Homo sapiens: one gene and its partners. The protein of the gene in region 1 purifies or fractionates together with the protein of each later gene. This does not show direct contact. Each region holds a gene or a part of one and is shown on either strand. Other genes may lie near its edges. The genes, in order: SLC39A8, ERGIC2, LEMD2 and ST7L.

Region 1 (6,876 bases):
TGAGCAACAAGAGTAAAACTCAGTCTCAAAAAAAAAGCAAGAACATCAAAGAGATGTTTGTTAGGCTTATTAAGTGGTAAATTTTCCTTGGCTTCCTTTTCTTTCCAAGGTAATTATGGGCTTCTTCCTGTCTCTTTTTGATGCCCACAGAGGCCATAATGAGGGCAGTTAAATATGCAAACATGAGAATGAGAAAACAGGTGTCAAGATACATATAATTTTACCTATTGAGACATCCTGCCTGCTAATAAACAGAGAATCGTATTACTGGTACACTTAACCAATTTTCCTAAATAATTTAGGCATGTTTTCCAATGTCTTTGCAAAGGTGATGTGGGGAGGTCTTTTGCCCCTTTAAAATTCATCAACACCTCCAGACACTGCAAGATAAGGAGGTCATGCAAGTCAAAACAATGTGTGGGCTACAGATATGCAGCTTCAAGTCAATCCTCTAAACTTCTTTCCAAGCACGTGACCATACCTACCTGGAAATACTGGAGTCAGCTCAGTTGTTTCCCCTATTTGATAAGAAAAGAATGCAACTAGCCAGCAAACACTTTATTTTCTTAAATATTAGCATAATTTGTGGGCATTTCCATTTTTCCAACACATCATTTCTCAGATATTACCCCAGATAAAATACCATGCCCAGAACTGGAATTATAGACAATTTACTAAAGAACATGCATAAGGGGACCACAAAACCCTTCTAGATCAAAGAGAGACCACCTCTGACATGCCATGGCATCAGAAAGTTCTACTTTTCTTAAGAGCCATATACTTTAATTGTGGTAAGATATTTCTAACAAAAAGATCAATCTACGTATAATGTTATTAACATGGAATTTATTTGATTACAGTTTCCCTAACTGTAATCTAAAGTCATATTCATTAGGAAACGCCAAATTTCCAAGAGCAGAGTATAATATGCAGCATTTCCCAAACATCTTGGACCCCAAAAACTTCTTGTAACAAACTAACATCGTCCAAAAATGACAAACGATATGGAAAATACCGTATTCTACCCTCCAATATCAGCTGTCAGTGGGACAGGAGTAAAGGAAAACAAGTCAAAGCACTGAGTTAACTGAGTTTTAAAAGACGGAGAGCAGTTTTGGAAGGATGCAGAAACTACACTTTGTCTACTTAACAATTTTAAGAACTACCCAATCACAGAGTATTTATTATAGAAATAATTAGGAATAATTTGATTTTATGTTTACAAAGAGGTATGATGTTTAACTGCTCCTACGTAGTTTGAAGCTTGTTCTTAAACCCAAGGTATTGCCAAATGCCTAGTAGTACCCTGTTTATTACTGAAAAAATTTTTTTAATCATTTTGGATAAATACTAGAATCAAATATTTGACCTGACATATGACAAGGAACTAACAATATAAGCCTAGTCTACCACCATCTGGATGACCAAATTAGAATCTTAGTCTCAAGGCCGCCCCTGTTTCAGCCCTGAATGCCTCATGTAATGTACACAGGAGCCAGAACTACATTATATCTCGTTTTCAAATAGCACTGGTTACGCACCGGGCAACTGTTAACCAGGGTGGCATGTGATAATCTTCCTTGCTAACCTTGTAGGAAGTGTGCGAGCCGTTATCTTTCTGGCAAGATTTAAGTAACTCATTCCTATCTAAAAAGCATCTGTTAAAGTGGCGTCACACCCTCAACTACTTCATAAAGTTTTCTATAAAATGTTAAAATCACCAGAGTCGGACCTCTCAGTTCATCAGGCGTAAAACTGCAGTTTCCGGCTGCCAAATCCCTTAACAACGTTAACCTTTTAATCCTTCAGCCTCGTCTAGTGAAAAGCAAGTGTCACCAGATACCGCCTTCTACTTGAGAAATATAACAAGATTCTTTCTCCTGCACTTTTCCCAAATAAAAACGGCTCATATACAAAGTGAAGTCTAGGGACACCCACAGTACGGAGGGCTGCCCGGACCTGGCGGCCTTACCTGGTTGAAGTGCAGCTGGCCAGGCTCCGGGACGCCCACGCGGGAGGCGGCTCCCATCTGCTCCAGCAAGTGCTGGAGCTGCGCCGCCGACAGGCTCAGATTCGCGCCGAACACGCTCAGCACATCCTCGCTGAAGGCTAGCCCTGGCCCCTCCGCCACTCCTCCGAGGCCGGCGGCCGCCAGCAACAGGAGCCCGGCCACCGCGCGACCCGGGGCCATCCTGGCCTGGGCTTCCCCTTGAGGGCCCGCGACGGGCTGCCGCGCAGAGGGACGCGCGCGGGCGCACTGGCGTCCTTGCCCAAGGGCGGGAGCGTCAGTGCTCGGCGCTGCTCCGAGTCAGAGGTGGCGCGGGACGCCCCTGGTTCTCCGACGCCTTCGAAAGAACAGCAGCTCGCGACCTGCGGGGCATTGAAGTGGCAGCGTAGCCGAGGGGAGCGATAGGCGGAGTGGGCCCCCCGGCCTCCTGGAGAGCCTGAGATAAAGAGGACAAAGGGGGACAGAGATAAAGGCCACCAGGGCACCAGCCGGCAGGCTCCAGAAACGCTGCGTGGCAGTAGCCCTCAAACGCCCGGCCGGGCATGGGGCCAGACGCCCCGGATCCGGGTTTGCAAACGCCCCAGGATTTGCGTACATATGCTCCTCCCGGATATAAAGCCCCAAACCACGCCACTTCTTAGGAAAAACTAAAACCACACTAACTGTAGAACTCCACCTCCTCTTCCTGTCTTTCTGCTTTATTCTCTCCGCCGCAAACTTAGAAGTGAGACGTGCAGTCCCCAAGGAGCTGCAGAAAAGGGCTCTTCCGGAGTCCTGGGGATTGCGCGTTTAAAGGGGACCCTCCCTCTCCCCGGATCTTCTCTGAGCTTGGCAAGTTAATCGGAAGCACTCGCTGGCCTCTCACCTCTCCTATCTGTTTGTTTGTCTGTCTCTGCGTCTTTCTCTCTGCGTGTCAACGTAAGACTCGGTCTCTGGATCTCTCTCTCTTTCTGTCTCCCGCCCCCACAACCTCTGTATCTCTGACAGGTCCGCGGTGAAACTCCGCGATCCGCTCCGGCGCTCTTTACAAATAAGGGGAGGAGGGCCCTGTCCCCGCCTCCGTAGCACGTGGTGACCCATTTCCCCAGCCTGAACTCCCGCGCGCGTCCACGCCGGGGCGCAGGACCGCCGGCCTTCCCTCCGCGGGCGCTGCTCATTCCCAGCATCAGCCATGCCCTCTTCCCCACCCTCACTCCTGAGGGTTACCTGATGCCACCTCCGTGTCGGGGTCCCTAACTCCTCTCTGGTCTCGGGGACGCATGCATCTTTTCGTGATCTTGATGAAACCAACTTGCTGAAATGGAGCCTGGAGACCCTTGCATTGTCTACATAATTAACAGGAATTGCTTTTTTTTCTCACTTCTTAAAATCAGAGGAGAAAGAGGAAATCCAATGGTAGCGGTGGCGGGCTAGCTGAGCCAGCACTGCCCAAGCCGGCCCTTCCTGGCGGGATATCCGCAGATCAGAGGAATGTTTATTTGTTCATATGGGAGCTCAAGAAAAGCTGACTTAGGTGTGATGTCAACAGGTTTGTGTAAAGTGAGTGTGGTGTTTGAGGCAAAGTTTGTATCTGGTGGATATAGTGGTTCAAGTGTAAAGTGAAACCATGCTTCACTGTTAGATGGCTGTGAAAGGAAAATAAATCTTGAGACTTCAAAATCACCAAGCTAAAGGGAAACATCAAGAAGGGACCAGCTTAGGGCAAACCTGCCTGCCATTCTATTCAAATTCATCCCTCTGAGGCTCACCTGAGACAAATGCATATCTGATTGCTTTCTCTTCTCCATCGTTTATGCAAAAAATGCAGATTCACTGGGCCAGACTAAACTGTCTATTGAGTGGAAGGCTGATCATGGCCTCAAAAGAATGCAACCTTTTGTCTCTTGTCTATTATACTTCTAACCTGGAAGCCCCCACTTCCAATTGTCTCACCTTACTGGACTGAACCAATGTACATCTTACACATATTGATTGATGTCTCATGTCTCTCTAAAATATATAAAAGCAAACTGTACCCCCGACCACCTTGGGCACATGTCTCAGGACTTCCTGAGGCTGTGTCAGGGGCACATCCTTAACCTTGCCAAAATAAACTTTCTAAATTGACTGAGACCTGTCTCAGACATTTTGCATTCACGTGACTAAGGACAATAAAAAGAATACAAGATGCCGTTCTTGCCTTTCATCAGGAGAATGCACAGCCTCCTAAAATAGCACATTTTAAAGAGACATTAAGTCTAGACAAAGGGGAAAAGATGGGGAAAGGGAAAAAATCTTAATCTTAGAAGAGGAACCTAAAGACATAACTGCAGAAGAAAGAGACAGGTAGAGAACATTCCCAGAGGCTAAGGATCTAGGCAGACGAAGCTGAAGGATTGTCATATGGAAGAAGGTTTAACTATATTATATCTAACTTCAGAGGACAGAAGGCAGCAGTCATGGGGCAAAGTCACCCAGAGGAAGGTTTCTGTGGAATTATAAGGCATGGCTGCCTTGGAAGATAGTGATTTCTCCATGATCAAAAGTGATTCAAATCAACAGATCCTGGGTGACCGCCTTTAGTAGGTGGTAGGAGGATTCATGCCTGAAGGGAGATGAACTAAATGATCTTAATACTGTGCTCTTTCCAATTATAAAATCTACGTATTTGTTAATAATAATTTACAGAATTATGTTGATGCTAAAAGGGCAAATATTTCATCTAAGGGCCAGAAGTAAGTTAATATCACAGTTGTCCTCTTAAATCACTCAGCTCGTGGGACTCTTCAAGCCTTTCATTGGATTTTAAAATATAGTTTGTTGCCTATTTTTCCTTTGGACCTCCGTGATGCAAAATGATTTTTGGAAATTAATGAATGCTCTAAATGGCTAATCTATACCCAGCAAGTTGTTTATTTCCAGCTTTTCTAAAACTAAATTTGTCCATAAAGTGTTAGATTTTAACAAATATAAAAGGTTTTTAAAAATACAAATCTTGGCTGGGCACTGTGGCTCACGCCTGTAATCTCAGCACTTTGGGAGAATAAGGTGGGCAGATAGCTTGAGATCAGGAGTTCAGACCAACCTGGCCAACATGTAAAAACCCTGTGTCTACTAAAAGTACAAAAATTAGCCAGGCATGGTGGCGCACGCTTGTAATCCTTGCTACTCGGGAGGCTGAGGCATGAAAATCGCTTGAACCTAGGAGACAGAGGTTGCAGTGAGCCAAGATCAGGACACTGCACTCCAACCTGGGTGACAGAGTGAGACTCTGCCTCAAAAAAGAAAATAATACAAATACAAATACAAATCTTACATTGTGGGATTTTTAGAATATATAATTTATCTATTTATCAGTCATTCATGTCTATGCACATACATTTCGCCAGCCCATCAAGTCCACAAAATAAGAAACAGTAAAATAAATGACCAACCTGCATGCCAACTTTACTAAGCCCAGTTAACATAATGCAATTAAGAGAAAGTGTTCAGAAAATTTCAGGTTACTAACTACCAAATAGGTAAGGCTAATTTCTAGATCATCCAGTCTAATAAACTATAATCACCAAAGAACTACAGGTTAGGCATCTCTAATTCAAAAATTCCAAATCCAAAATACTGCAAAATATGAAACTTTTTGAGTGCTGAAATGACACCAATGGAAAATTCTACACCTGACCTCATTTGACAGGTGCACAAAATTATTGGAAATATTATATAGAATTACTTTCAGCCTATGTTTATAGGGTGTATATGAAACATAAATGAATTTTGTGTTTAGACTTGGGTCCCATCCCCAAAATATCTCATTTTATATATATGTAAATATTCAGAAATCTTTAATAATCCAAATTTGAAACACTTCTGGTCCCAAGCATTTCAAATCAACTCATAACCAAATAATGTTTCATTTATTTATTTATTTATTTTTTAAGAGGCAGGATCTCACTATGTTGCTCAAGCTAGGACGCAGTGGCTATTCACAGGCACAATCCAACTATTGACCACCACGGAGTTTTGACCTACTCCATTCAGACCTGAGCCAGTTCACACCTCCTCAGACAACCTGGTGGTCCCCAGTCACCACCACCCCACATCTGAAGGTCATCATATTGATGCCAAACTTAGTGACTGGCACAGCCCACTACATCCCAGAGCTCCTGGGCTCGAGTGATCCTCCCACCTCAGCCTCCTCAACAGCTGGGATTACAGGCCTGTGCCACTGCACCTAGCCAGATAAATTTTAGGGTCCAAATTCTATAAGTCATATTATTACAAAAGAAAAACACTTCCCATTTAAAATATAATGTATAATGTATAAAATATATTTTTCTTAGAAATTTGCCTTAAAGGTCGAATACTTTTAAATGATAATGAGGGTAGCATGCCAAGTACACTGGCCAGGATGTTGAAAAATGTCACGTTTCTGACTCAGGCACTTGGGAAACCTGGGAAACTCATTTGACCTCACCAGGATGAATTCCCTTGTCTGTAAAACAAGATAATTGGGACAGAAGAATATCAAGTCTCCATTCCAGCCTTTTTATTTCTAAGTGTCTAATTTGGAAGTCACTTATCAGAACAAAACATGAAACCCCTAAAAAAGAAATAAGACTTCACTTCCCCAAGTGAAAGGACAGTTAACTTCAAATCTTACTTTCTCTAATGATTTCAGTTTTTTCTCAGTTCAGATCTTTTGTGACTATCGCAAATATAAAGCAAACTGGCCTCTTGTAAACATTTTCATGCATGCATTTTCTCTGTGGAAGGACTAATAAGGAAATCTAAAAGATGACACACCCCTTTCTCTTCTTCCCTTCTCTTCCTTGCCATCCAGCCTGGAAGTCGTTAGGTGGAGTATAGCAGTGTCTGTGTGGAGGGGAGCCATA
Region 2 (7,036 bases), on another chromosome or scaffold:
TATAGTAACCCCTAGGAGGTAAATACTAGTATGATCCCTATTTCATGGAAGAAACTAAGACAGATAGATTTGAATAACTTCCTCAAGGTCACATATTTAGGAAAGGGCAGCAAAGCAGAAACATTGGTTTAATGTATTAATGTTTTAATAAACACTGCCAAAGGCACAGATGGCACTGTGTTGGAGGCTATAGAGAATATTAATAAGAATTACAGCCAACAGAGTGGCATGAAGACAGACAAGTTACGAAGTTACGGCAGAATTCATTGATAAATTCTTCCTCATGGCTACATTTCTATATGTTGTTGACTGGATCACGCAGAAGTTGTACTTACTACAGAACTTTTAATGTTAACTGATACTCACCTGTACCTCCACTGGCTGAAGTCTCTACATAGCTCTCAGGAACCTTCGGAAAGGCATCCAACTCTTTTACCAAACTTAAAGTTTTTTTCCGATTCAGTCGCCTCATCTTCAGGAAAACCTTCCTCTTCCTTCATATAGTCATGCTAAGGAATAAATAAATTAATGAATAAATGAATCCTTTAAAGAGATAAAAAGGTTTCTTTAAATTTAGGATAACTGACAAATGTCCTTAAAACAACTTAACATTCTCATCCCCCCTTAAAAATAAAAAGCATAGTATTTATCCACACTACTCCTTTCCCCATTCATGCCCTGACAAAAACTACTAATGGAAGGCAATTTAAATACAAAAACACATTATATAGCAAGAAAAAAAGTGAAAAGTAATTCAATCACATGAATAATGTCTAAATATAAAAATTAAGATAATGTTTTCTATTAAATTGAAAACTATATAAAAATAATACACTTCCAATAATGAATGACAGTGAAGTAAAATGGCCTGCTCATACATTACTAACAAGAATATAGGCCAGGCACGGTCGCTCACGCCTGTAATCCCAGTACTTTGGGAGGCCGAGGCGGGTGGATCATCTGAGGTCAGGAGTTTGAGAAACCAGTCTGGCCAACATGGGAAAACCCCATCTCTACTAAAAATACAAAAAATTAGCCAGGTGTGGTGGCACGTGCCTGTAGTCCCAGCTACCTAGGAGGCTGAGGCAGGAGAATCGCTTGAACCTGGAAGGTGGAGGTTGCAGTAAGCCAAGATCATGCCACTGCACTGCAGTCTGGGTTACAGAGTGAGACTCCATCTCAAATAAAAATAAAAATAATAATAATAATAATAATGGAAGAAGAAGAAGAAGAAAGAAGGTGGGAGAAAGCGGGAAAAGGCGGGAGAAGGGAGAAGAAGAAAAAGAAGAAGAAGACATTTACCACACCACTCCTCTTCTAAGTAAATGCCCATTGAGGAATTTATCCTATGACAATAACCTGCGGTTTTAACCAAAATTTGATTACGAGGATATTTCTCACAGTGTTATTTTTAAATACTGAAGACAGAAACAAATCCATTGTATCCAATGTACAAATTAAGGTGAAGCATCTTTACGTAGCCATTGAAAATCTTTTTTTTTTCTTTTTTTGAGACAGGATCTTGCTCTGTCACCCAGGCTGGAGTGCAGTGGCGTGATCTCAACTCACCACAATCTCAGCCTCCCTGGCTCAAGCGATCCTCCTCGCCTCAGCCTCCCAAATAGCTAGGACTATAGGCATGCACCTCCACCCCCAGCTAATTTTTGTATTTTTTGTAGAGACGGAGTTTCACCTTGTTGCCCAGGCTGGGTCTCAAACTCCTGGGCTGAAGCCTTCCACCCACCTCGGCCTCTCAAAAAAAGTGCTGGGATTATAGATGTGAACCACCACACCTGGCCTGAAACTCTTTTATTTAAAAAAAAAAAAATTAATGACATAAGAAAATAGTCATGATACTGATACAATAAGAAAAGACTAGAAGGTCACATGGATCCTAACTTTATGGGAGACAGGAAAAGATACATAAGAAACAAAACTGAACATCTACACACAAAAATGTTAAAAGTAGATCATGAATTTTAATTGCCTTTACATATAACTTCAGATTTCCCATGTTATCTATTTTTATAATCAAAACATTTAAAAATTGGCTGCTTGCTATTTATCAGCACGTCATCTACATCTAAAAATGTTATAAAGCCAATCAAATAACTGAATTCTTAGATATTTACATAATTTTTATGACTGATTTATAAATAATACTATAGGTAATATTATAAAGAATTCCCAGTAATCAAGGCTTTATTAATAAAATCAACACATAATAGAATAAATCGTACAGTTGCAGAAGTCACTATAAGAGAAATAATGTCTCTGGAAGAGAGCAGACAGACTTTGGGTCTGAAATCTAATGGGGAGGATTAATATACAAAGAATAGGCAAAAGAAAGAAGATTCATAAAGAAAAAGAAGGGCCAGAGAATGAAAAACTGGCAGTAAACATGAATACTGTCTAAAGGAAAGAAGCTCTGACCAGGAGCACTATTTATCAGTCCAGCAGGGAGCTACTACTCTACAGTAGAGTTGAAAGCATTAATACATTGATTTCCTCTGCCATTAAAATCAACCAACTAAACTTCCCTTGCTGGTTCCACACTCACAAAGCAGCCTTCGAATTATGATTTTTTTCCCATGCACTTAGTATTCGAAAGAAAAAAATAGATGTCATAGACAAAACAGATGACAGTTTTCTGACCCCCACGTCAGTTATAAAACTGGTATTCCCATCGATAAATTAAGCTTCTGAATGTTTGTTATGTATATGCCATGCCCGCTAAACTTGTTTAGCTCTGATAATCAAATTTATTTTCTGTACCTTTTTAGTAGTAACTGCACAAAAACTGACCCTTTTTCAATCTTTCAATTTCTACTCTTTCTGATTTGAGTAAAATATTAAATATCTGTATGTCTCTTCTCTTTAAAACAGAACTCTCCCTTAAACTCAAGTCCAACTCCAACAATACATCTCTCGCAGCACACCTACAGCCAACTTAAAAGAATGAGTTGTCCCCATTCATCTACTGTGACTACTTCCTCACCCAACTCTCACCTCTTAACTAAATTTGCTCTGAGCAAGGTAATTAACTTCCTTAGTACTGACAGACACTCCTCAGTCCTTATCTAACTGCACCTCTGAGAAAACACACTGCTTATCACTTCTTTTTCTTCTCGAAACATTCTCTTACCTTGACTTAAGTGATATCACATCCCCAATTTTCATTCTACCTGGAAAACCCTCTTTGGCTTACTGTGCAAATTCATCTTTCTCTCAAGATTCTGCACTAGGTCTCCCCCTTAACCTCCACACCTTCCCCAAATGATCGCCCACTCCTTCCATTTCAATCTGCATGTTGATTTATCCCAAATCTTGATTCTCTGCCCAGATCTCTCTGCAGATATGTATAACCCCTTGCCTTCTGTTACCTTTTCATTTGGACATTCCAAACACAATTCAGACTCAACAAGTCCAAAAATGAATACTTCACCCTGTAAAAATTGTTCCTCCTGTATCTATCTTAATGATAACACCATAAGCCCAACTACACAAGCCAGAAACATGGGTTATATCTTTAGACTTAAGCTATTTCTAAATTTCTCTTAAATCTGCCTGTCTTCTCTTCTTCAGGCCTACTGAGAAATTCCTTATGTCCAAGTATGTTCCTAGTCCCAACTGCCACAATCTATCACTACATTGCTTCAACAACCTCTAATCTTCAACCTTCCAATTCTCTCTCTATACTGTAATAATAAATTATCTTTTTAATACATAAATCTGATATTTCTCTTCAAATCTTTGTAAAACTTCCCTTCCCACTACACTTAAGAGCTTGGATTCTATCCTAACATGTTTTACAAAGCCCTTCAAAAACCAGGTCCTGCTAACCTCTCTTCAAACCCAATCACTCACAGTCTACGTTCCAACCATATTAAATCACTTTCAATTCCTTAAATATCCTATTCTCTTTGCCAGAAATATTTTTTCTTCCCCCTACCGCATCTCTACATTTGACTAACTCCTACTTACTCTTCAAGGTCCAGTCTACTCATCTCTACCTTGAGCAAGCAGGGGGAACAAAAAAACTTTCCATGGCCTTCAAAGTCTATCTGCTTCTAGAACGTTGTACCTTTATCACACTATTTCTAATTGCCTCTTTTTCTGTTTCCTCCACCGGATTGTTAGAGCAGGAACCATGTCTAACTTGATCTTTGTATCTCCAATGCCTAGCGAACAGGTATTCAATATTTATTGAGAAAAGGAAGGAAGGAAATTTTCCCAGAAACACCACAGTAGCACATCTTTCAAATCACAGCAGTATGTCATACTTAGGTAAGTAAATATATAAAAATAAGATCCACAAGAAGGATTTTCCTGTTGTCTACTGTCCCAGGACCTAGAACAGTGGCCATCACATAGTCAGTATAGCACTGTTAAACAAATGAATAAAACAGTGAATTACATTTCTAAAAGTTTATATAAATGTTATATTTGTATAATGAGCTTTCTAAATGCTCTTTTAATTTATATATAAGCATAAAGATACGGCAAGCAGTTAGTTTTACAAATCTCCTAATAATACATACAACCTATTCAACACTCCTCCCTTGAAAGTCTAGCTGGAATATATCATGTGGCTCCCTACCCATCTCTAGCTTCCTCCATCCCTGTTTTCCAGGGGATATCACTCTAGAATGGAGCACCTCGCCCCTCAGCTACTCCACCAGTCCCATTCCTGAAAGCTCAGCACTAACCTACCTCCAAGAAATTCATTCCATTTTGCATACTTGCCAACCTACTGTAAAAGTCACTGTCTGGCATAAACAAGGTATCCAATAACTTCTAGCTTTTCTAAAAGAAATTGCTGTCTGCTCTCTTTATAAAACCTGACTTTCTATTGGCAGCAGTTCCATTCCAATCCTTAGTCATTTCTGAGACTCACAGGTTACAGAAGTATCATGTTTTACCATATTTCTCAACCATCTCTCATGTTTTGTGCTATGTATTATTTGAAGCTCTTTAAACATTAATTCATTTAATCTTGTAAATGACTCTATGAAGCAGCAGGTACTATTTTTAATCCTACTTTTTGATGAGGAAATGAGGCACAGAACTGTCAAATAATTTTCCCAGGCTACATAGCAGGTGGTAGAACTTGAAACTATGCTCCAAACCACAGTACACACTGATTCTCACTTCCGTACTTGTTGCTATATTCCACTAACATCTGAATATATTCATAATTTGCTTAATGACTTCAGCACCCAGATCATTCAATATGCTTCTCCCCCACTCCATTATCATCCTTTGGAATTCATGCTCTGATGGCATTTATCCTATAGCATTCATTCACAATAAAACCTTTTTACCATGTAAGCTTAACAGCGCTTCTCCTCCTGTGACCTCCATCTTAATTCTATGGAAAGCCACCCATGAGCAAGGTCAACCCTTAAAACTGTTCCACCTCTAAAATCCAAAACACATTTACCTCCCCAAGTAGGAACTACCCTTCAAGCTCTTTCCTAAGATAAATCTGCTCTTCATTTTCACTGGTGTTCTCAAATCCTTTAAATCCTACCAGATACCCAATTTCATTGCTCCATTCCCACTCTATTTGCCTCTCTACTCAGTGTGGTAAGCCATTTTCAAAAATGTGTTTGGAAATACCTCAGATCATCAATGCTTGCCAGAAGTCATTGCTATTCTGTGACAAAATTTTCTAGTCATGGACAACGTAGAAAAGAACTTTTAAAGCTAAATTTATTCCATTTTAAAATGTGTCCTTTATTCTGAGATTATTTTATTCCATTTTGTCAAAACAGCCTTTCCTTTATGAAATGATAAAAACAGATATAACAGAGGTTGTTTTGTTTTTGGATGTCTTTATTCAGCAAAATTAAAAAATGTAATTCTAGGTCAGTTTTTATACCCAGCCCTTTTCCCTGTCCACACGGCCCGCCCCTCTCAAATAGATATACATTTTCTTGTATTGGTCCACAAAATCTAGTTAGAAGCCGTTACACAAGATTCCTTTGCCCACTGGTTGGTGCTGCTATTCATACCTTGACAATCTCCAGTACTATGTCTGTTTTCTTTGATGTCTCTCCTTAAACTGTCTTGAATATTAAAAAACAAAACAAACATAAATAAACTCCAGAAAGTCACTGATAACAGCTGGAGCTAAGACAAGACAGTTGTCCCTCAGTATCCATGGGGTATTGGTTCCAGGACCTCCCTTGGATATCAAAATTCTCAGATGCTCAAGTCACTGACATAAAATGGTGTAGTTTTTGCATATAACCTATGCACATCCTCTTGTATACTTTAAATGATCTTTAGACTACTTATAAAACCTAATATAATGTAAATGCTATGTAAATAGTTGTACTGTTTAGGAAATAATGAAAAGAAAGAAGTCTGTAAGTATTCAGTACAGACACAATACTTGTTCAGTAGGCATGCAATTTTTCCTTCTTGAATATTTTCAATCTGCAACTGGTTGAGTCCACAGATGCAGAATCCACAGATATGGAGGGGTGACTGTATTTTGAAAAACTTCCTAAGACATAAGAGACTCCCTTTCAGGTTGGAACACAGACATTATCAACACTCACTGTAAGTAAAGTCACACAGCCTATATTTCATCATTGTATCCATCTGAATATAATGAGACTATTAAATGCTTTACCAAAATTAAAATACAGAATTCATGAACTTTTTATAGTCTGCTCAGTTAAGTTTAATTCTCCAAAGAAAAATGAAGACAAAAGTTATTTCCTGCTACCCAAGTTTTGAGTTAACTTCTATTTTTAATACATATTTGGCAATATGAGAAAAATTTAATTGGTTAATACATATGGCCAAGTTGCAGTCTGAACTGTGTCAACTCACAATTTGATACGTTGAACAAGATATGTTGAAGTCTCAACCTCTGGTATCTATGAATGGGCCTTATTTGGAAATATTTGAGTCTTTCAGATATAACTAATTAAGATGAGATCATACTGGATCAGGGTGCTCCAAAATCTGAGACTGGTGTCCTTTTAAGAAGGCCATGTGAAGACACAGAGAAACACAAGGG
Region 3 (7,000 bases), on another chromosome or scaffold:
GAGGCCCAGCCAGCCAGAGCACAGGCTTTCTCCCTTCACCCTGGAGCTCTCAAGTAACAACCCCCTGAAGGCACATGGACCAAGCTGCTCCCCATCCCGCCACCCGAAACACCATCCCTGCCCCACCTCCCAGGTGACAGACTCCCTGGCGTGGCCATGCCCCAGCCCACCAGCCCCACGCTTGTCAGCTGGGCCTGACAGCTGCTGCTCTTGTTTTCTATTCATGAAAACTCAACCCTTCTCCCCGTTTCTGCCAGCACAACAGGGCAGAGTCTGGGCTATCACCCTGGCTTCTCCCCCTCCCTTTAAAGGAAGCCCACATTTTCCTGCGAGCCGAACTCCTCTGAAGAGTATGGCAGACCTTTGGAATCGTGTCAGGACGAGACTGAAAGTCAAGGCAAGTGTGAATTCAGCACCGCAGGCCTGGTGACCCTCCTGTGCCTCTGGAGTGGGCTGTCCTGGGACAGGCTGACCGGGAACAAGTCCCCGCCCGGGGCTTATCGCTCTGAGTCAGAGAAGGAAGAGGGCTTAGTCCATCTCCACACCAGCATGTCCTCTCCTGCAACGCGGTGGGACTCCGTCTGGATCCGGGATTCGTTGGAGGCCAGGAACTCCACAGCTCGGTCCCAGACACGCTTCATGCGCCTCCTGCAATGAGAGGGACGGGGCTCTGCCTGGCACTGCCGAGGTGAGCCAGCCTGTGGATGCCCCTCCTACAAAGGGCACACATTTCCAGGCTCTGGCATGGAATTTATGTAAGAGAGGAAAAGCTGGCAGGTACTAACATGACAACTGCAGAGGAGAAAAACGTCTTGGGCCATAGAGAAATGATTCCTCAACCTTCACTGATCCAAACACATTCAATTAAAGGGAGCTAAAGGGCCGAGGTGTCTGGAGCACCCCCAGGTCTCCAGGTGTGCAGGGCTGTGCTAGGCTAGCTGACTCTTGCTGGGACCTGTTGCCTGCGCAGCCCTTGCCAAGCCAGTTCCAGTACCCCGCCAACTGCATCTTGATGCTGCTCTGGGTGGGCTCATTGAAGAGTGAGCACTGGGCTGTTTCATCTAAGCTCCACAGCACTCCAGGGGATGGGATGAGCTAAGCATCAGACGGGGGAGGCCAAGAAGCTGGAGCTGCTCTAGGGAACCAGAGCCACAACGGAGGGCCCCTTCAGTGGCCAGAGTCCCTTCTCTGCTGGGTCTCTAGGGCCTTGCACCCCCCTGGACAGCCTTCCCCTCATCTCTTCTTCCCCCCTTCCAGACTGGACAAGAAGGTTCCAAAGCCATGGGGGAGGGTCACTTTGATCTTCTCCCTTTGTGAAGCATGGTATTGCACAGCCCCCAGCCTTTTCTCATCACTGCAGCCCACCTCCCCATGACACCACACGTGGAAAGACAGTGACTGTGAGTGTGTACGCATGGGAGCAGAAGGGGAGGACAAACGGAGGTGGCCAGTGAGTCAGGAGGCGGGGGGGGGGCTAGGGCTTCCCCAGGGGTCAGGACCTGTCACCAACCAAACCCCATGGGCCTATTCAGCAGCCCCAACTTGGCTGGTCTGGCCGAGGCCACACATTCCCTGGGGACTGAGCTCCAAGGTGCTGGGTCCCTGAGCAGGAAGCGGCCAGTGTTGAGTGGGCAGTGTCTCACTCCAGCCCCTCCTTCCCAGGCCAGTTCTTCTCATCTCCCTCAGTCTTTCCCAAGCAGGCCCTCATCTACAGGGCAGACCTGACTGGCTAGCCAATGTCTCCTGACGTGGGGAGCTTGGCCTGGACTGACTGGGTGGCTTGGGAGGTAAGTCAAGAGAGCAAACAGAGCATGGGCGTCTGGGGTTCACATGGCTCTGACCCTGAGGGCCGGCTACCTGAGTGGCAGCAGCTCTGGGTATCTATGCTAATGCACGAAGGCTTGGGTGGTAGCTCCGGCTGCAGGCAAGCTGCAGTGCCGTCTCATGCTCTTATTTAAGCAAATATGTGTGTGGAATATCATTTAAGCCCAAGGCATAATGGCTACCCTTGGATGATGCCCACGTGCTAGGCACTGACTTTTTTTTTTTTTTTTTTTTTGAGATGGAGTCTCACTGTGTCACCCAGGCTGGAGTGCAGTGGTGTGATCTCAGCTCACTGCAACTTCCGCCTCCCGGGTTCAAGTGATTCTCCTGACTCAGCCTCCCGAGTAGCTGGGACTACAGGTGACTGCCACCATGCCCGGCTAATTTTTGTATTTTTAGTAGAGACGGGGTTTCACCACATTGGCCAGGCTGGTCTCAAACTCCTGACCTTGTGATCTGCCCGCCTTGGTCTCCCATTTTTTTTTTTTTTTTTGAGACAGGGTCTCGCTCTGTCACCCGGGCTGGTGTGCAATGGCATGATCTCGGCTTACTGCAACCTCCACCTCTTGGGTTCAAGTGATTCTCATGCCTCAGCCTCCTGAGTAGCTGGGATTACAGGTGCATGCCACCATGCCCGGCTAATTTTTGTATTTTTAGTAAAGATGGGGTTTCACTATGTTGCCCAGGCTGGTCTCGAACTCCTGACCTGAGGTGGCCCACCCACCTTGGCCTCCCAAAGTACTGAGATTACAGGCATGAGCCACCGTGCCTGGCTACTAGGCAGTGACTTAATGAACTTTGAGGCCACCACCCTGATACCAACCCCCCTTCCCTTAGGGCTTGTCACTACCTAATATCACATCTTTTCCTTATGCATCTTGTCATCTGTCTCCTTCCTGAGAACAAATGCTCCAGCTGGACAGGGATTTTTGTTTCTTCCACTTCCTGCTGTCTCCCTGTGACCCAGTAGGGTGTCTGGCATGTAGTAGGTGCTCAATAAACATTTGTGGAGGAACTGAATGAATGAATGAATGAATGAATGATAGTCTCTTCGTCACAGCCCTGTGCAAGGCAGCGGGATCACCTGCATTTTAGGATAAGGAAACTGTGGCACAGGTTGACTGAGATGCTCATTGTCACGATACTCCTGCCAGGGCCAGGAATTGGGTGGGAGTTTGAGTACCCCAAGTCACCCTCCCTGGGAGGTAGAGGGCCTCACGCTGAAACCAACAGCAAGCGCTCCTCAGAGCAAGCACAGCCCATGCTGCTGTGAGTCTGCTCACTCTAAACTTCCTGCCTGCCACCTTTCCAGGGGTGAGGTGAGCATGACAGGCAACAAGCACCTTCATGTTTAAGATGGACCTTTTTTTTATTTTTTTAAGAGATAGGGTCTTGCTCTGTTGTCCAGGCTGATGTGCAGTGGCATAGTTATAGCTCACTGTTGCCTCGACCTCCTGGGCTCGAGTGATCCTCCTGCCTCAGCCTCCTGAGTAGCTGGGACTACAGGCATGTGTCACCATGCCCACTAATATCTATTTTTTGTAGAGATGGGGTTTTGCTATGTTGTCCAGGCTGGTCTTGAACTCATGGGCTCAAGCAATCCTCCCACTTTGGCCTCCCAAAATGCTGGGATTACAGGTGTGAGCCACTGTGCCTGACTTAAAGTGGACTGCTAACGGCTCTATTTTTCTGATTCCTCTTGGGTTGCAGATAGGGATGATGTTGACAGTAGAGCCTGGTGGCGGGAGCACGGAAATGCCACTAGCCATGGGACTCTTGAGCACATTCCTCTACTTCCCTGTGCCTCAGTTCCCTTATAGGTAAAATGGGGCCACTTCTGTTGTGTGCGTGAACCATGGTGAGGACCAAGTGAGTGAGTTTGCATCTGTGGAGAGCTCCAAGTAGTGCCCGGCTCCCAGGGAGCACTCAGCAAGGGTGAGCTCTCAGCATCACCCAGCAGATGACAGCATCTGGCCAGAAACCACAGCAAGTGTCTGCTAGGGAGGGACCACAACCAGAGCCAACACTGGGGGGGGCCCTGCTGGCTGTCTCCTGGGACTCTGCCCTCCCCCACCCTGGTTCTGTCAGGACCCCAGTGTACAACTCCAGCAGTCACAGCCCATGTGGAAGGTGCCCTGCAGCTGCACATGACAGTGGCCCTGCCACCCCTTCCCATGAAGCTATGTGCCCTGGAAGCTGACCCCATTCATGTTGTGAAACTTTGCTTTCAATTACATGTATATGCATGAGTGTACGCATGCGTGTGTGGGAACTGGACCATGATGTTGCAGGTAACAGGTGTTTTTGACTGCAGGTCATGGTTTAAAAAGTTTGAAAAACAATTTCCTCCTCCTTGCCAGTGACTGATTCATAAACAGACATGTAAGAGATTCTGGTCAATAAAGCCTCAAGGAGTGTGTCACTGGAGGCTACTGGGAACATGTTCTCTTGCTTATAAGACAACAATAGGCCTACTTTTCCCCTGCTGGCTGTGACAAGGCAGACAGTGCCCCAGCTGCTGTTGGCCACCATCTGCAACCATGAGGGACCCCAGTCTGTTGATAACATCCATGGAGGAGTGTGGGACCACGAGAATCACAAGAGCAATGGAACCGGAGACCTGACTGTTCTGTGCCTGGAGCCCATGCAGCTCTGAACTTCCACTTACAGAGACTGAGGAGATCCTTCACTACTTGTGCCCTGGGGGAGGGAGCTGCTATTACTTGGAGCCCAAGGCCTCCTAACTGGTATCACCACTGCCAGTGTTCTCTCTACAGAGGTGTGGGATTGTGCTTTCATATGTCTTTTCTAGCTCATCCTGCCATAAAGAGCCGAGCATGCTGGGGAGCAGCAGGAGTGGGAGCAGAGCCACTCTTGGCCCTGGGGTCTGCACTGCCCTCAGCTGACATCTGATGCAAGGCTCTGGGTTTCCTTCTGGGGAGCTCAGTGGGGTCGGACCCCATCTTACCTCACACCCAGCGCCCCAGCCAGGGACTCACCGGCTCTGTGGAGGGATCAAGCTGTCGCGCACGTGCAGGATGCCTACATATGGATAGCGCTCCATGTCCTGCTCCCAGTCCACGTAATGGTCCTGGACCACGTCTGCAGGAGAGAGCACACCATTTAGGGCAAGGACCCTCTGGCTGGCGTCGGCAACCCTTTATTCACCAGGGGGCCACGCACCTATAATCTTCTTCACCATCTCATACATGGCTTGTTCCTCCTCTTCTAACTTTCGCCACCGATATTTTAGGAGAATTAGGAGCCCCCACAAAAAAGCCAAGCCTGTGAGGGAACAAAACACTGTTAATCCCTCACACTTCATTTGGCAGTGGGTCTCACCATGGACAAGATGCTGTGATGGATGCTGTGGGGGATCCACCACATGGGTTTGGGTACCTACTATGTGTCAGGCTCAGGGCCAGCATGCGAGAAACAAAAGATACAGAAATGCAGAGGGACGACAGATTATTAAGTGATCATCTTCCTCCCACCGGCTGTCACCACAGCGGCATCCCCAGCCGTCCAGATCTCGGCTCCTCCCAACCTCATTCTGGGGCTTTCATCTCCTCCCTTGTGAACCAGAACACAGTGTTTCATACATATATACATGCCGGGGCCCTTTGTATTCCGAGATGCTGCTGCCGATAATGATTTCTGTGCCTGATGGCACAGGGGAGGGAGCTGTGTGCACACTGAGGCGGTCTGTGATTTGTAGCTCCAACTATCTCTGGAAAGCCGTGGTTTCTGTGACTTGGCCTTTCGCCTTCAGAGACGCCCTGAGGTCTCTGCTCAAAGGCGGCCCCCGATGTCAGGGGATAAGACTGGTGCCCTCCTTTCAGTGCAGCACCCTGAGTCCTTCTTGCTTTCATCAGGTATCTGTAGCTCTCCAGGAGATGTTTATATTTTTCAGGGAGTAAAAGTAGGCCAAGCCCCTGCTGTGCCTCCTGCTCGAAGCTGGTCCACACTGGGATCCCTGCAGAGCCCAGAAGGGGTGGGGCCCAGCTCCTGCTCAGGCCAGGCTCCCGCTCAGGAAATCTGACAGTCCCCTGCCCTGAATCAAGGACATTTTCTAGTTATCCTCACGGATTCCTGCCACCAATCTCCAAAGGTAAATACAACCCAGGGCAGAGGCTGACTTGTTCATCTCCTCTGTTTTATGAGACAGACCTCAGGTTCACTAGACAGAAATGAACCCTCCGGGCCTGGAATTTCTATAGCTCATCATTCATGCCTAGGAGTATGCTTGACTGCACAGAAGGGGAGGGAAGGCGGCCGAGGACTTACACCAGAAGAAGATGAGCACGTTGGTGACAGCAGTGAGCAAGGCCCGGCTCAGGCGGCAGCCAACACCCATGCGGGGGTGGGCAGATTCCAGGCAGACCACCTTGTCCACAGTCGTCACCAATTCAGACTGGTCTTCTCCTTTCAACCTGAAACAGGACACAGGGCTCTGAACATGTTGGAAAGCTCCAAGGAGAGGCAGTGCAAGCCCCACTTCAAACAGGAGGAAGCGAAGGAAAGTGGGGACGCAAGGCCTCTACTTGCTTATAGAATAGGCTTGGTATCCTGGCTGCATTCTTTCCAGAAATTTCCCACATTGGCTACTTAGAATGAATAAAGCTTTAAAGACGGCAGCAGGCTTGAACCCCTACCGCTAAAGCAACGTCCCCCTGTCAGGTCTTTGACAGCCTCTCTCAGCATGCAGGAGATTAAACTGTAAATTGGATTCCCACCTCCCAGCATAGAGAAATGGAAATGTTTACTGAATCACTAGCTTTGCAATTGCATGGCAAGAACTGAAAGACAGAATCTGGGAGGTTGCACTTTTCCTCGGTGACAAGGAGGCACATAAGCTGTTTAAGTGTAAAGATCATGGGGCATCCATGAGGCTCATGGGGAATCCGTGAGGCTCATGGGGAATGAAAACCACCAGGCTCTCCGAGGCCAGACCCCAGCCACGGCGCCTCCACCATGGTCTCTGGCCAGGAGGTGTCAGGACCTGCAGAGGTGGGGACACCAGAGCCTTCTTCCAGCTAGGTGACCCAGGGCGAGAATATCATGCTCTTGAGGCTGCATGCTGGAATGGCTGGCATCCCAAGTGTCCTGATTTCTCAGGACCCACTTTCAATATGGTCATCCTGAGCGGCTCTGCCACCCTCCAGGCTGCCTTCCC
Region 4 (7,036 bases), on another chromosome or scaffold:
GGAGCAGTCTCCTATGACTGCATGGGGTATAACTGCCAAGCCTACTGCTCATGACCTGTGGTTGTTTTTAACTCTTAACTGGGTTAGAAAACTGGAGAGCTTTGGATTCCAGGGATGATCTCCATAAGAGAGAAGCACTGGAAAAGACCAAGTGGTGGCTTTATTAGGGTAAATATATCACAGTTGCTACAGTGAATTGAGCTTTCTCAGAAGCTATTATTTTCTTTGGGTGATTGGCAGGTATAGGGCAATAGCCAGTGGGGTGTCAGTAATATGCCCTGTCCCTGACCTCAAAGGTAAAGGGATAGAAAAGAGAGGGCGTTGACAAACTCATTTTCCCACTTCCCACTCATGGCTTATATTATCTCTGAGCATCTCGGTGGCTATTCCTCATTTACTTAAGATGTTTTAGTCATTCTGGATGTGCAAATGCAAGGCAAGCATTCTCCCACTGGCCCCCTAACGGTTAACTATCCTGGCTTAAAATTTTCCTTTGCTCACTTCCATTCTATGAGTATATCGATGGAGCAGCTGGACATTAGAGTTCTTTCTCTTTGACCAAAGGAGCCAAAATGCGGTGACTTGACTTCAACCCCAACAGCCCCTGTAAGTAGCCCTGGCCAAACAGAAAGGCTAAGCTGAATGAAGAAAAAAGGAAGACAATTTCATCTACAGTTGTCCTTTTTGACAGCTTCCAAGGGGGGTTTGCCTAGGAATAACAATATTCATAAGAAGCTTTTTCATATGCAAAATGCTTTAGCATATATGTAATCCTCACAACAACCCTGTGAGGTAGGGGTTACTGTCACTTTACAGATGCTGTTCAGAAAAATTTGGTGATTTGTCCAAGGTCACATGAACAGTGCGTGGCTCAGCCAGAACTCAAACCTAGGTCTTCTGACTTCAAATCCTGTGTATTCTCCTCAAAGCCTGAGGATGCCCAGGGTTGGGGGCACCAGAGTCCCAGCACCTTCAAAACAGAAATTGATACAAAATGTTCAAGCCCTGTAGGAGTCCCAGGACAGCCAAGAGAGTATATCTGAGCACAGTTTACAAAGGAACAGCCTAGGCCCTCCTGAACCTTATCAACCAATGGCTCTTTTGCCATTTCTGCCACTATTACCACCAGTACCATGTGACCACTATACAACATATTCCACATTTAAACAACTCTGGCTCCTAATTCTACTCCTTTTTTCCCCTTCAGATTAACATTAAAAATTTTATCTAGTCCTTTTGAAATTATGCTAAATGTATAGACACAGTAGAAGTAGTCATGACAGAAAATTATTAAGGCTTTGAAAATATGTATCAGAGGCCGGGTGCAGTGGCTCATGCCTGTAATCCCAGCACTTTGGGAGGCCGAGGTGGGGCAGATCACGAGGTCAGGAGATTGAGACCATCCTGGCTAACACGGTGAAACCCTGTCTCTACTAAAAATACAAAAAAATTAGCCGGGCCTGGTGGCGGGCGCCTGTAGTCCCAGCTACTGGGGAGGCTGAGGCAGGAGAATGGCGTGAACCCAGGAGGCAGAGCTTGCAGTGAGCCAAGATGCACCACTGCACTCCAGCCTGGGAGACAGAGCGAGACTCCGTCACAAAAAAAAAAAAAAAGAAGGTATGTATTAGAATTTTCTTTGAGATTTCACTCCTTTTAAAAATGACGTCAACTCCTGGGTTAGGAAAGCAAGATGAGGGAATAAGTGTCCTAAGAAACTCCCATCCCAAGCCAGACAGATGCCTACCCGTGGCCTGGCAAAGGTCCTGGGATCTCAAGCTGATGCAAGCAATTTGTGTACACCAAGGCAAGGGGTCTCAATCCTGCAGAGAAACCCATGAGATGAGGCAGACAGCAGATTTTCACTTGATCAAACACTTGCTGCTCTCAACCCCTCTTTGTTTTCCCATCCAAAATCTGGACCTCTGTTTAGGCGCAAGACAGTGAGTAAGAGCAGCTCCAAAAGATGACGTATGCAAGGGGAACTCTTCTGTTCAATCCTGTAATGTTTTCTGTTAGAGACAGCATAGGCTACCTATCCTAATCCTGCACCCCAACTGTTAAGACAGAAGGGAAAAGTACAATGTTCATCAATCATAGCTCTGGGATGCTGCAGCTCCCTGACCTGGGCCCCTACTTGAGCTAGGAGAAGAACACCTCATGAAAACAGTCTACCTATAGTCAGGACTTCCCCAAGGCAGACTTTATTTTTTGGTCCATCGATCTTGGCTCTCACTGTTCTCCCTGCTTCCCACCCCCAACTGCCTCTGCATGTGGGCTCAGAAGTCATCATCTAAAGAATTCCATTGCTCACCTCCTGCATAGCAGCACAGCCCCATGAGGCCACACACCAGATGGAGGGGATAAAAGTACGAGGTCATGGCTTCTTGCAAGAGGCTTTTTCTTAAACTAACCCTGACTCCTGGAAAAGAGGCAGAGCAGGAGAGTGTTGAATGAGCTGCTGATGACAGCAGCTTCATAGGTCTTGTGTATAAAGGAAGGAAAAAGCTAACTTGGCTTTCCGTGGAAATTTACCTACTCCCATTTTCAGGTCTACTCCTGGTCTCACATCTACTTCTTGAAGGTGTCTAAGTAGAATGCAGAGATTGTCAAGCTAGAGGGTTAACTCCTTCCCAATTGTAGGGATCTATTCAGCAGGCTGCCACACACATGCTGAGGTGGAGGCCAACCCTGAACACATGCGCTGCTTCTTTAGGAATGTAACTATGAAGTAAAAGGAAACAGTAAGGAAGGTGAACTGGAACTCTGGGGAAACTGAAAAGGTCATCAATAGGCCTTCAAAATATTTGTGTGTAATAAGTAGACACAAGAGGCTGGAGGAAGATGATCATTCCTAGAATAATTATGCTTACTGGGTGACAATATACAGAAGCAACAATTACAATAAAATGAAACAGTTTAATGGACTAGGAAGCAGAAGTCTGAGAATAAAGGAATTAGGTTAATGAGATTAAGCAGAGATGGCATTCCACAGGAGGTGACTTTTGAGTTGAATTTTTAAAAGATAGCTTTATGTGTTTTATGAACTGACTGAGGGCAGTCAGAAGAAGGCATTCTAAATAGAGGGAACTGGTATGTGCTGAAACTTAGAAGCAGGAATGTACAAGCAATATATAAGGAATTTCAAGCAAGTACACATTATATACACTGGGGAATACAGAGAAATTAGAATGCTGAGATCAGGGCTTAAATAATGTGAGGTGACTGTGTGCACCTAGACTGTCAAATGGTTCAGCATCCCCTATAGAGCCACATAGTATCTTGATTTATGTCAGTAAACATCAGGGCACCTATGGAAAAGCACAAGGATGAGTCCATTTGTTACAGACCCAGGGACTAACAGAGATCTACACTGTAAAGTTCAACAAAATGCTACATATCATTAACTACAGCTCCTTATCATTTGAGATTCTGGGCTAAGTAAGAGATATCAAATATCCTATCCAGTACTGTGATACATTAATGTAGGCTTACAGGCCCAGAACCTGGCATAAATCAAGCCAAACCCTTAAGAAATTAGAATGTGAAAAGAAAATAATTTAAAATAGAAAATACATGCTGCTTTTCCTCACTCCCAAACTTAAAACTTGACTGGTCCTACATATTCTACTTGGTATATTGAATTTTTGCAGCTAGCAGATTTATCGTATCTGAGGCCATAGTGAATAGAAGAGCTGCAAAAGAGCTTTAGAGACTGCAAAACCAGCTCACTAATAAATGAGGAACTTTATTCTAATTTACTACCAGGGGCTGAAGTAGCAGCCAAAGAAGGAGACAAATTCTAACTTCATGATCTCTAGTTAGGTGTCTATTTTCCTGCATTTGCTAAAGGTAAAAATCGCTACTTATGGGGCTTTTGTCATACTTCTTAACCAAACTTCCCTAACTTCTGAGGATAAAAACCATAAGGGCAATCTTATTCTTCCAAAGCAGTTCCCTGGTGCCACTTTCAGAAACAGAGTATTGAACTATGGGTCTGACCCAGTGTGGCACTGAGTGTGTGTGTGTTTGTGTGTTTGTGTGTGTGTGTACACTGAATAAGCCAAAACGTGTGCCATATTCTAGGTTTCTGCTTTACTTAACTGGCAAAATTTGGTGCTGTAAGGGAGGCAGCCACAAAACCAGTGATAGCATTTGTTAGTATCATCTTAGTTCTCTTCCCTCCCCTAGGTAGTTTATAAAGGGTGATTTCTGAAACCCTTCACAAAAGAAAAGCTCAAGGGTTTACATTCAACTGTGACAGCACTATGAATTCATTAAGAAGCATGTTTCAGGTTGCACTGTAATTTCCCTATGTAATACAAACCCATGGAATCTGACATAAGCTGATTGCTCATGCTGGTTGTTTTATTTACATTTCTGAATGGAAAGGATTTCAATACTCATAAAATATCTAACTGGCTTATTTTTCATCTGTTCTCCCAGAGAAGCTATTATAAGATAGGCATAGAGACAGAAGTCTCAACTTGTATAACTGGTTAAGCAACCAGGGAAATGTTATTGCTCAAAATGCAATTTTAAAAAATTCAATATGGAACTTGAGGCCAAAAAAACAGAAGGTTACTCTCAATGCCATCCAAAAGATAAAAGTTAAAAAAAAAAAAAAAAAAAAAGGTAACTATGCTCATTATTTTCAACCAAGTTCTATGGAGGTGGTACCTTCACAGGAGCTCAGTGGAACTGGGGTTTACTTACATCTTTTTTCTGGGAACCTAATGTTAGCAGACACAGTTGCTAGTTTGAACAGGAATGCAGATGAATGGATGAAAGTGGGCTCCCTACCACCCAGAAATATGAATGTGCCTCCTTACCAATATGCTACAAATCAGACCTCTGAATTAGAAGATGCCATCATGCAACTAACTTACTATCTGGAGATGTGTATTTTGTTAACCTAGGCAAAGAATAACAATTTCTGCTTATTCCAGTAGGTGTGACAAGCTCAGAGAAGTGAGCGACAAGCTAGAGAAGTAATAATTACCAATAAAGTAAATTCCAAAGCCGAATCCCCAGTTTTCTGCCTCCAAGTTGTTGTTCAAATAGTTTATCTTCCTTTCTTCTACTGCAACACTAGTTTAATCAGTACATTCTACAACTCTCTAGTATTATTATAATATTTGCATGAGTAGTTTAGAATTTAGCCTTGGGCCTGCTCTTCTACCATTTTACCATATTTACTGATTACATTTTACCATATTTTACCATATTTACTGATTACATGCCTAATTTGTATAAACTCAAGGAGAGGTTCTGTGCCTTTTTGTTTGTTTTTTGAGATGGATTCTCGCTCTGTCACTAGGGCTGGAGTGCAGTGGCGTGATCTTGGCTCACTGCAACCTTCGCCTCCCAGGTTCAAGCAATTCTCCTGCCTCAGCCTCCTGAGTAGCTGGGATTACAGGCGCCTGCCACCACATCAGGCTAATTTTTGTGTTTTTAGTAGAGACAAGGTTTCACCATGTTGGCCAGGCTGGTCTCAAACTCCTGACCTCAGATGATCTACCCACCTCGGCCTCCCAAAGTGTTGGGATTACAGGAGTGAGCCACCGCACCCAGCCTCTGTGCCTATTTTAAAACATATATCCCAAAGTCATATCCCCAGTGATCCAGCTAGTCTGTTACTTTAATGAGACAGCTCAATAAAGATAGGAAATATTTTTTCAGTTACTTAAAGAGAAAATAATACTGGTGGTTCTCCCTGTAAAGAGGTAGAATTGCCAAAAAATGCAGAATTGATCAGCAAAACCCAGCTATAAAGAAAGGGCAAAAGGAACTTTATTTTAGTGCCTTATCCCAATATCCTTTTATTTAGTTTTTTGATTAACATGATGTGTGCCTATTTTCAGAATCAGTGACTGCCAGCTGCAGCTCTTGACATTATCAAGTGAGCTCTGGAAAATTCTGGGTAGCTCTTTCCTATTCTCTCACATGCCCAAAGAACTAAGTAATTTTGGTCCTAACTCTTACTATTCTATTCTTCTTCACATGAAATCACATTGTTTCATACTGAAAACCAGGATGGCTATTAGTTCTTATTAATCTGTCATTATTAGGAATGAGAGGATATAAAAGAGGTATATAAAATGTATGAGTGTAGAGCTTTTGTCTAAGGCAATTACTCTGTGAATCTGAGGTGAGACATTTCTTAAATTTTGAATTGTGGAGCTCTCCATTTTTTGATAAATTATATTCATATAAACATTATAATAAATAACACTGCTTACAAAAAGATGAATTCCAGCTGCTGAGTATAAAGATGAAAGTACTCCACATCACATATTTGGAAAAGAATAAAGATATCTCTTTCTATATGTTCTTGCTTGACCTAACCGAATAAATTCTTCTGAAAGGAAGCATAATCTATTAGTCTAGACTGACCTTTTGGGTCACTATATCTTACGGGAGCCGTGTGAAAATAACTCACCATTCCCTTCCAGTCAAATAAATGAATATTCAAGGATGAACTCATCTATTGTGGCAATAGCTTCCACCTTATACTAATACATCTTCATGCCCATCTCAAACCCCCTACCACTAGACTATGAGTTACTTATGAACAGGGATTATATTTTATACTTCACAGGTACCCAATGAATTTGAAATGCAAAGACCTGTTATATGTTATAGGACAATCATTACCATATTTTAGCATGTTATAGGACAATTAAAACCATGTTTTAATTTGCTGAGGCTCTTTACAAATCTAAACTTTGAAAACAAATCAAGACAGGCCCTATTGGAGTCCTTCCATTCAATAAGCCAACATTCAAAGAAGACTCTTTTCAGGTTATCCAGGACTCTCTGAACTGCATGTTCTACTGCAGTTTTTGTTTTTTGTTTTTTAAAGGTGGTATTACAAGAGCTAAAATTCACCAAGGGCAAATTAGTAAGAAAAGTCTTCACAGCTAGGGCTTAGCCAAATTAGAATCCCTGGGCTCGCAATAAGGGCTAAACCCCTAAAGGGATCAGAGTCTAATAAATAAAAAACATCCAGCTGAATTTTATCAGAGGGCAAAGTTTC

What was found.
Region 2: the proteins of SLC39A8 (region 1) and ERGIC2 purify together in Homo sapiens (affinity purification with mass spectrometry; 3 studies listed by BioGRID and IntAct, with this or other methods). This does not show direct contact.
Region 3: the proteins of SLC39A8 (region 1) and LEMD2 purify together in Homo sapiens (affinity purification with mass spectrometry; 3 studies listed by BioGRID and IntAct, with this or other methods). This does not show direct contact.
Region 4: the proteins of SLC39A8 (region 1) and ST7L purify together in Homo sapiens (affinity purification with mass spectrometry; 2 studies listed by BioGRID and IntAct, with this or other methods). This does not show direct contact.

Annotation. Positions count from the first base shown.
Region 1 is NC_000004.12:102,342,472-102,349,347, forward strand, and holds the start of SLC39A8 (metal cation symporter ZIP8 isoform a precursor), read right to left. Parts: upstream 3,012-6,876; 5' UTR 2,874-3,011; intron 2,783-2,873; exon of another isoform or gene 2,445-2,782; 5' UTR 2,192-2,444; coding exon 1,973-2,191; intron 1-1,972. UniProt on the Homo sapiens protein: Electroneutral divalent metal cation:bicarbonate symporter of the plasma membrane mediating the cellular uptake of zinc and manganese, two divalent metal cations important for development, tissue homeostasis and immunity.
Region 2 is NC_000012.12:29,371,162-29,378,197, forward strand, and holds part of ERGIC2 (endoplasmic reticulum-Golgi intermediate compartment protein 2), read right to left. Parts: intron 510-7,036; 5' UTR 473-509; coding exon 367-472; intron 1-366. UniProt on the Homo sapiens protein: Possible role in transport between endoplasmic reticulum and Golgi.
Region 3 is NC_000006.12:33,772,131-33,779,130, forward strand, and holds part of LEMD2 (LEM domain-containing protein 2), read right to left. Parts: intron 6,258-7,000; coding exon 6,112-6,257; intron 5,110-6,111; coding exon 5,008-5,109; intron 4,927-5,007; coding exon 4,824-4,926; intron 649-4,823; coding exon 498-648; 3' UTR 1-497. UniProt on the Homo sapiens protein: Nuclear lamina-associated inner nuclear membrane protein that is involved in nuclear structure organization, maintenance of nuclear envelope (NE) integrity and NE reformation after mitosis.
Region 4 is NC_000001.11:112,525,142-112,532,177, forward strand, and holds part of ST7L (suppressor of tumorigenicity 7 protein-like), read right to left. Parts: intron 5,025-7,036; exon of another isoform or gene 971-5,024; coding exon 872-970; 3' UTR 1-871.